Homo sapiens: one gene and its partners. The protein of the gene in region 1 purifies or fractionates together with the protein of each later gene. This does not show direct contact. Each region holds a gene or a part of one and is shown on either strand. Other genes may lie near its edges.

Evidence for each region.
Region 2: the proteins of KRT6C (region 1) and SULF2 purify together in Homo sapiens (co-immunoprecipitation; one large-scale study listed by IntAct). This does not show direct contact.
Region 3: the proteins of KRT6C (region 1) and WWC1 purify together in Homo sapiens (co-immunoprecipitation; one large-scale study listed by IntAct). This does not show direct contact.

What each region holds. Positions count from the first base shown.
Region 1 is NC_000012.12:52,468,016-52,470,805, forward strand, and holds the end of KRT6C (keratin, type II cytoskeletal 6C), read right to left. Parts: intron 2,616-2,790; coding exon 2,490-2,615; intron 1,876-2,489; coding exon 1,655-1,875; intron 1,431-1,654; coding exon 1,396-1,430; intron 1,283-1,395; coding exon 1,047-1,282; 3' UTR 501-1,046; downstream 1-500.
Region 2 is NC_000020.11:47,656,906-47,660,193, reverse strand, and holds the end of SULF2 (extracellular sulfatase Sulf-2 isoform a precursor), read left to right. Parts: intron 1-463; coding exon 464-497; intron 498-741; coding exon 742-795; intron 796-1,801; coding exon 1,802-1,832; 3' UTR 1,833-2,788; downstream 2,789-3,288. UniProt on the Homo sapiens protein: Exhibits arylsulfatase activity and highly specific endoglucosamine-6-sulfatase activity. It can remove sulfate from the C-6 position of glucosamine within specific subregions of intact heparin.
Region 3 is NC_000005.10:168,424,145-168,427,644, reverse strand, and holds part of WWC1 (protein KIBRA), read right to left. Parts: intron 1-3,500. UniProt on the Homo sapiens protein: Regulator of the Hippo signaling pathway, also known as the Salvador-Warts-Hippo (SWH) pathway.

The DNA.
Region 1 (2,790 bases):
GCACGGTCTCCTCAGGATACATTTCCAGAGGTGTAAGTCCAATTCTAAGTAGGCACATATTGATTGCTGTTGATACACCTTGTCAAATAATTTTCTTAGTCATGAGGCAATTCTAAGTATAAATAAAGTATCTTATTTTCTTCCCAAATGACTTTTACTCTATTTGGCCAAAAATGTTTCTCCACTGGGCATTTAGGCCAAGCACCGGTGTATAAGGAGGAGTAGTCTTAGAGACCAAGTCTGAGGGACTGGGCTGCCAGTTCCTGCATACAGTAAAACCAGAGTGGACAATCATGGTGGACCAGGTGCCTCCCGCTCCACTTGCCAAACATTTAGGAGGAATCTAATCTGAGAAGAGACCTGAATATCAGGATGCCATAGTGCTGTTAATCGAACCTCTCTAAAGGAGAAGGTTTAAGCACATGGGGATATGGATTATCAGTTAAAAATAAAAAGGCGTTTGTCAACTGAAAAAGCTGAAGAAATATTGGTACCATGCATTATTCTAAAACCTGCTTTATTTAGAAATTACAAAGAGCAAAGAGCAGAGAAATCATCACAGGGAGAAAGACTGTGTACATCATACGACTAGTCACTTGTGCTTCCATGCATACTGCGGGGCGGGGGTTCACAATACTTTTAACTTAGGGAGTTTGGGGGCCAATGGAAAATAAGTGGAAGTTGTTCTGAAATAAGCCCCAGGCGATTTTCAGTAATGAAAAGGAACAGAGATCATTTTCTTATAATGCTCAGCCTCAGAGAGAACAATTTTGGAGGCAAGAAATTAATAATTTAGTAACAAAGTGAAGCTCCATTGGTGAATACATTATGATGTAAAATCAAAGGTTGATCTGATGGTGAGCAATGGGTGCTCAGATGGGGCAGGTATAGACAGAGAGAAGTGAGGGCACTAAGCATCCATACCCAGCTCTACCTCGGAGAGCAGGGAAGACTAGAGGCCAGGAGAGGATAGGCAACCTGAGGAGACGGCTCTGCAGCCAGAGAAGGGCCTGAGGACTGTGGGACCGAGAGCTGGAGGCAGCACTTTAGTGCTTGTAGCTCTTCCTGCTGGAGGAGGAGGTGGTGGTGTACTTGATGGTGGAACTGCCGCCTCCAACAGAGCTGAGGCCACCCCCAATGGCTCTGCCACTGCTGGAACTGAAGCCACCTCCAATGCCAAGACCACTGCCATAGGAGTAGCTGCTTCCTCCACCCAGGCCTAAGCCACTGCCGACACCGCTGGCACCGCCATAGCCACTGGAGATGGTGGACTGTACTACAGCTGTGGTGGGGAGGGGACAAGGACACAAGAAGCCACGGTGAGCTCATCCTGCCGGCCTGAGCCCAGTCAGAAGAGTGCGAGGGCAGGGGAGGAAGGCAAGCAAAGGTACTTACAGACGTTGACTTGTCCAACGCCTTCGCCATTCAGCCTGTGGAGAGGAACACAGGGAGGGTGAGACCTCAGAGAGCTCTTCCTTCCCTGGACCAGTGTGGGCAGCCTCGGTGGGTGGAAGAGTCCATGGGAAACTGCTCTTTTAGTTTTCTCTCAAGAAGAGCAATTACGGCCATGAGCAGTGCACCCTAGAATTGTGCTCAGTGCCAGGAACCTTGAAGATGGACTCAGCTGTTGGAGGAAGTCGCGTCAGTTACCTACCTGCACTCCTCGCCCTCCAGCAGCTTGCGGTAGGTGGCGATCTCCACATCCAGGGCCAGCTTGACATTCATCAGCTCCTGGTACTCCTTCAGCAGCCGGGCCAGGTCCTGCTTGGCCTTCTGCAGGGCATCCTCCAGCCCTTCCAGCTTGTTCTTAGCATCCTTGAGTGCCATCTCCCCACGCTGCTCAGCATCAGCAATGGCAGCCTGCAGGCTGGCACACTAGGAGGGGAAAGGAAGAGAAGGAACTTCTTGTCTGCTCCTCCGGAGGAGGCTGGCCCTTGTTTAGTGAACCAGGGTCCTGTAACCCAAAATTGACAGAGAATGAGCTTTGACTCTTCCTGTCCAGTATTTCTCCATTTGGCAATATTTGTCTAGTCTGGGAGTCAAGTGACAAAGTCCTATGCCCCTTGTATTAAGCACCCGCATGAGAATGTGCGTTGCATCTTATGGGAGACACTACAATGGACCCAAAAACAAGCCATATGGAAGATGAATGCTCGGTTTGTACTGAGTGCTGTTTTCAAAACTACAAGAATGATTTTGAGGAATACATCTGGATGCCACATTAAAATATACAAAATTATGACCATCTGTAGGGGAGGTGGTAACTTTTTACCTGACTGTTGAGACCTGGCCTTGCTTGTGCCTCAGAGGCTCATCCTCTTGGGTGGGATTCACTTCTCTATTGAGTTCTCACTGAGGGCAAGAACTACACATGTTCCTCACCCTAGTGTTGGTTTACGTTTCAGGAATTATATCAAATAATGGCTAATGACTGCCTGATGGGTCTAGCAAAAAATGATGCTTCTTTCCTCCACTGCACCTCACTGTACCTGCTTCTTGACATGGTCGATCTCAGATCTCAGCCTCTGGATCATGCGGTTGATCTCAGCAATCTCCTGCTTGGTGTTGCGCAGGTCGTCCCCATGTCTGCCTGCTGTGACCTGCAGCTCCTCGTACTGCAGCCCAGAGGTGGAGAGAGAGACAGTGTCTACGGGTTCTTACCTGGGAGCGATGACTTTCACTTGTGTATCATGCATGTCATGAAGTGGACCTAATGGCTTCTCCTCAAGAAACTTGAGGAAAAGTTGATGTTATGTGGTGGGTGGATACTAAACTCTGGAGTCACAGACG
Region 2 (3,288 bases), on another chromosome or scaffold:
CCTCATTTTATGGAGGAGTAAGGTGAACAAGGTGGGCTGACCCCGGAGCCCACGCACTTGATCCTGCCACATCCTCGGGAAAACTTCCCCAGAGCCCAAAGGGGAACTCCCTCCTGCACTTGGTCAGGGCTCTTGGCTTTCTGTCCTCTGGAGCACAGATGTTCATGCCTGCATCTACCTCCCTCACCATAACTAAGGTCAGCGCTGAATGAAGCCATCAGGGTCCTGAAACTGATCATGGTGACACTGGATTTTAGGCAATCTACAAGGCTATCTAGGAGACTTAGGGCAGGTTCCCCTCATAATTCAGTCTACCCCTCATAATTCAGTCTACTCTGAGTAGGGAACACTATCAGCATCATGGGATTGTGACAAAAAAGCATAAGATGGTTTTCTGGTGTGTTGGGGTTGTTTTGCCTAAACTATCTGCTCCTGTTTTGTTTTTCATTTCTCCTTCATTTAGGACTTAAAGATGGAGGAAGCTATGAGCAATACAGGTATTTCGTTTTATTATTAAAGCCTAAACAAAGTTCTCCTATCTTGGCCCATCCTTCAGTCTCATCTCTGTGAGTCTGCACCTGTTATCTTGAGAAACTGCCCTTCCCTCTGGTCTGCCCGAGACCAGGATCACCCACCAAAGATAGGTGTCACCTAGGAGACCTTCTTTGTATAGTTCTTTGGGGACTTTTTCTTTCTTGGTGATGGTTAACATTCATTCTCCTTTGACACTTGAAAACTTAGGCAGTTTCAGCGTCGAAAGTGGCCAGAAATGAAGAGACCTTCTTCCAAATCACTGTGAGTTGAGGAACCAGCTTACAAATAGAAATCTGGTTCTGACCGCTTCATTTTGCCAATGCTATTCTATTTGCATGCCATTTCTTACATACCACCCTTTGTTTGTTCTCATGATGAGGGTGGGGGGGAAGTACTAATGCACATCTTTCCCTAAGAAAACACTTGAATCCATTTCATGTTTTAGATTAATGCCTTGTCCAGTACACTGCTGTTCTCGCTATAATCTGTGCTTGGTAAACTTGAGCTATTACTTAGAGGTTGAGAAGCATTTAAATATTACAAATTGCTAGGCATCTTGAAGGCTGTGGCTACAAAAGTGCTAACTGATATACAACATCAGTAGTAGGATGGCCTCATTAAATGGTTTCCAAAAAGCCCATGCTACAAACTCTCACTCCAGTGCCATTGGAGGCTGACAGGGACTAAGAGACTGGCAACCTGTAAAGTTCACCTCTATTCTAAAGGGAGCAGGCCAGTTTGCTCCCTGCAGGAATGGGCTGAGGTTCGCCAGATTTTCTCATTCGTCTACCAAATCCAAAAATGCAAGTATGTGTGAGAATTCTTTATCATTATCATCTAATTTGACATTAAGTTAACCATGTGGGCAAATTATCGCCCTTGGTGAACTGCCACTTGCAACCTCTGGTCTACTCATTTCTTCCTTTATATGCATATAAACCTGTGTGGCTTTAATAGGACATTAGTAACAGGTCACCTAAGCCTTTCTTCGGTGCTTCTAGAATTAAGGTACAGAATCTTTACATATCACAATCTCCTTAGCCACTATTCTGTCCAGATCCTTAAATGCCATCCTTGCCAGGCATTGGGTGTATAAGTAAACAAAAAATTGAGGTGACTAGGTGGTGGCAATCCCGTTCTAAGTAACCTAGAAATATTCATTCTCAGCAGCCTTGAAGCAAAGCTTCCTCAGCTATAGGACCGATTAGGAAGTCATGATAAAGACCATGATAGCTAAGTGCTAAGATGAGTTTGTTTTGTTCTTTAGGGGACAACTGTGGGAAGGCTGGGAAGGTTAAGAAACAACAGAGGTGGACCTCCAAAAACATAGAGGCATCACCTGACTGCACAGGCAATGAAAAACCATGTGGGTGATTTCCAGCAGACCTGTGGTATTGGCCAGGAGGCCTGAGAAAGCAAGCACGCACTCTCAGTCAACATGACAGATTCTGGAGGATAACCAGCAGGAGCAGAGATAACTTCAGGAAGTCCATTTTTGCCCCTGCTTTTGCTTTGGATTATACCTCACCAGCTGCACAAAATGCATTTTTTCGTATCAAAAAGTCACCACTAACCCTCCCCCAGAAGCTCACAAAGGAAAACGGAGAGAGCGAGCGAGAGAGATTTCCTTGGAAATTTCTCCCAAGGGCGAAAGTCATTGGAATTTTTAAATCATAGGGGAAAAGCAGTCCTGTTCTAAATCCTCTTATTCTTTTGGTTTGTCACAAAGAAGGAACTAAGAAGCAGGACAGAGGCAACGTGGAGAGGCTGAAAACAGTGCAGAGACGTTTGACAATGAGTCAGTAGCACAAAAGAGATGACATTTACCTAGCACTATAAACCCTGGTTGCCTCTGAAGAAACTGCCTTCATTGTATATATGTGACTATTTACATGTAATCAACATGGGAACTTTTAGGGGAACCTAATAAGAAATCCCAATTTTCAGGAGTGGTGGTGTCAATAAACGCTCTGTGGCCAGTGTAAAAGAAAATCCCTCGCAGTTGTGGACATTTCTGTTCCTGTCCAGATACCATTTCTCCTAGTATTTCTTTGTTATGTCCCAGAACTGATGTTTTTTTTTTAAGGTACTGAAAAGAAATGAAGTTGATGTATGTCCCAAGTTTTGATGAAACTGTATTTGTAAAAAAAATTTTGTAGTTTAAGTATTGTCATACAGTGTTCAAAACCCCAGCCAATGACCAGCAGTTGGTATGAAGAACCTTTGACATTTTGTAAAAGGCCATTTCTTGGGAGTTTTTTGGTGTGTCTGTTTTTTTAAAGTATTCAAGATACTACCAGTCAACATCTTTTTGGAAGAAAATGCCTTGGGTTTAGAAGATTTTCTTAAAAGGGGAGTAGATGGTTGTAGATTGACTAAAAAGTCTACCATACTTCAAGGGACTACAGGTAAGTCTCATAGTATACCAGCTTTGGTACTTCATTTTTTAAAAAAGTATTAATCAATTGCAAAGAAATTCGCCTTGGCCAACCCTTCTTTGTGTATCAGGTAGTCTAACCTGATACAAGTAGTTGACAGATTTCAACTATCAATCACCAGTCCAACCCATTTCTCATTTAACAGATGACGGAGATAATCCCTAAAAGCACCCACATTTGTTTCAATGCCCCAAACAGGCCAAGGCTCCCTAGCAACTCCCTAGTGGCGTTTTTTAACTTCTCAGAAACTGTTACCATTATTTGAAATAGGCTTCCTTAACCTCCTTTACCCTTAACCCAACAGGGATTTAAAAAA
Region 3 (3,500 bases), on another chromosome or scaffold:
CCCAATTTTGATACACTCTCTATGGAAGACAGACGGTTCCACCAAATTCCAACCACCTCTAAATGCTAAAGCAAAAAAAAAAAAAAAAAAAAAAAATTAAAAAAAAGTTTGCTTTAGGGTGATGGAAGGAGTCACATGTGATTTTGTGTTTTACCATCCCAGGCTCTTGAGTCGAACTGCCTGGATTCAAATCCGGCTCCACCACTCACTGCTTCATGACCTTGAGATACTGACTTAATCCTGTTAAGCCTCAGATGCCTCATTTGTAAAACTTGGATAATAATACCTACTTATAGGGCTGTTGACAGGACTCAGCGAGACATTATAAGGGAAGTCCTTAATATAGAGATTGGTGCAGGCAGGCAAAGTGCTCTGCAAAACTCATTACAACTATCCTTATTGCCACTACTGTTCCTATCACTGTAGATATCCATACTTTCAATGGCAAAAACTGCAATTACTTTTGCATCAACCTAACAGATCCATCCCTACCCACCTGGGGCAAAATAACAGCCCCTGGACCCTCAGGACAGAGAAGGGAGAGATTAAGCACCCGTTCTTCCACTGCCTATCCCTTTCCACTCCGAATTCAGCTCCTCCTCTTCCCTAACCTTAACAGGGGCCCTTGAAAGTCTCTGATCTGAGGCTCATAACTAAGCACTCAACACGTGCTGCACATTCCTTCCTTGCCCAAGTAATGATCACTCACGATGTGCCAGGCCCATTGCCATGTTCAGAACTACAAAGATGAATAAGACAATTCCTGCCCTCCTTGCAGCGGGGAAGGCCAGATCCAGATCTTACAACCTCACAGCTAACACCTCTGAGCACCTGCGGGCAGACCGGAGCAGGGCAAGGGCTCGCAGCATTGAGGGGCACAGAGTCCAGGGCATGGCAGGCCGGGGACGGCGATGGGTGACAAGGCGGGTCTGGGAGACTGCAAGTGCTGGTGATGGGGAAGCTGAGCCTGCGTCCCATGCCTGCTGAGCCCGCGGAGACCTCCTGCTTTCAGACCCACGCATCTCCACCCTCCACTAAACCACTTAAGGAGATTAATTTGTCTGCTGACTGAACAGCGGCACTAATCACATAACCTGCTTAGCGTCTAAGCTCTGCCTGGCATTGCTTGCTGCAGGGAAGGCTTCTGGAGATGGCATGAAGGAAATGCCATCCCGAGACCTGTGTGTGCCCAGCCTAATGTGCTGTCTGAGGCCCACAAGCCCCAAAGACACTGTTAGGGAGGGGAGAGGAGGGGGTCACTTCACAGGACATAGCTGGGGTCTGAGTGTCCTGACTTGGCTTAATATTGATATCAGAGGCATGCTCTTTGAGCCTTGTTAGAGGTTCCACCTGCACCCCCTCCTCTCCAGGGAACAATTTTCTGAGGCTTGCCACCTGCTATAGTAGGGCGCTTGCTTTTATTTTGAGAGCACTCAGCAAGACTCCCTTCCTGATGAGGGAAACCCAGGGATCTCTCGGCTCCTCTTCTAAGGAAACCACTGGCACTCAAAGCCTTTCGTTAACAAGGAAACCTCATTTCCCTACCATGCTCCCACTGGCCCTTGTACACACATGGATAATTCTGGGCACAGCAGCACCACTCCTGCCCATGCCTGGAGCCACAGAGCTGACATGGGTCTGGCTGCTTCTAGCTGGCCTCACCTGGAGCCAGGAGCACCAGCTTTTTGTAGACAGAACTCAGCACATGGATAACAGTGTGCGTTCTGAGCAGGTGGTCCTTGTGCCAGTCCTGGTCTTGCCATTTCACTCTGTGGGACTAACCTCAGACAAGTCTTTTAACCTCACTGTGCCTCACTTTTTTCATCTTTAAGATGGGGATAAAAGGGGCTGGACTTGGTGGTTCACGCCTGTAATCCCAGCACTTTGGGAGGCCAAGGTGGGTGGATCAACTGAGGTCAGGAGTTCGAGACCAGCCTGGCCAACATGGTGAAAGCCCGCCTCTACTAAAAATACAAAAAAAAAAAATTAGCCAGGCATGGTGATGTGCACCTGTAATTCCAGCTACTCGGGAGGCTGACGCAGGAGAATCGCTTGAACCCAGGAGGTGGAGGTTGCAGTGAGCCAGATGGTGCCACTGCACTCCAGCCTGGGTGACAGAGTGAGACTCCATCTCAAAAAAAAAAAAAAAAGGAGATTAAAAATAGCACCCACTTCCCAGAGGTGTTGTAAGGCTTAAATGAGTAAATATGCAGAGAAGTACCTAAATCCTAAACACCTGTACGCTATATATCATAGCTATGATTATTGTGAGCTATTTTTACTGTGGCCAGGAAAGCCAAGAAGGCCCAGGTGAGTTTACTGAGCATCCTACTCAGTCCTGACCTTCACACCCAGAGCCAGATGGGGTTGGTGGGGCCCCAAGCACCAGGAGTTGGCATGAATGTGCATGCTGAACTGCCTCCCAGCCTAAGGCATGACAATAAGGGGGTTGGGTTCCGGGGCCAGAAACACTCAGGTTCCTATCCCTGCTTCCTCACTTGTTGGCTGGGTGACCTAAGGCAAGTGACATCACCTCTCTGAATCTCCAATTCCTCACCAGTGAAATGGACAGAATAGAAATAACTGATTTCACCATGTATCAAGCACATTACCCAACTCATAATATATCCCCAATAAAAGTTAACTATTATGATTTATTATGTGGTTGCTGCTAAAGATAAAAAGGTTTTCTCCTAATAAATCTTAGCTGTCAATGTCAGCATCATCTTCTATTTTGAAGATTCCAACTTAAATTCCGGCCAACACCAAAATGTTCTTTCTGACCCCATGCAGAATGGGAGTCAGATCATATCATTCCTGGCTTCAAACGGTCACATGGGTCCCCAGTGCAATTAGGATAAAATCCAAACTCCTTAGCACAGCCCACCAGGCCTTTCAGGATCTGGACTCTTGCCTAGTTCTCCAGCCTCACTGGTAACCCCCTACCTCTGACTCATGGCTTCCTGGCTCCCCTTCTAGTCCCTTGCTCTGACCTCAGAGATTTTGCTCTTGCTTTTCCCAAGGCTGGCTCCATCTCACCATTCAAGACACCCTCAAATGTCATCTTCTTTCACAACCCAACCTGCCCTGGCAGTCCCACCTCTAACCAGAAAGGCTGGATCACATTCCCTGTTTTATTTTCTTTGTAGTGCTTGTTTGGTTGCAGGTTTATTCCCTGTGCCTCCATTTGAACATAAGCTTCATGAGAACAGGGACCCTGTCTGTCTTCAACACAGAATCCTTAGTGACCAACCCAGTGCCTGGCACCCAGCATATCTATAATCATGAATAGATGAATCCATGTATATCCATTAGCACAGGATGACCTGACATTTAGTTTTATGAGGTGCTAAATGTCTGTTGGAGGACAGAATCTACTACTGAAAACCCTTCACACAGGACCTCAAAAATACTGAGTTAATAAACATCCACTGAATAAATATACTTGCCATACAAAGACCCAGCACACAGAAGCAGTCAGTAAATATCGACTAGAATGA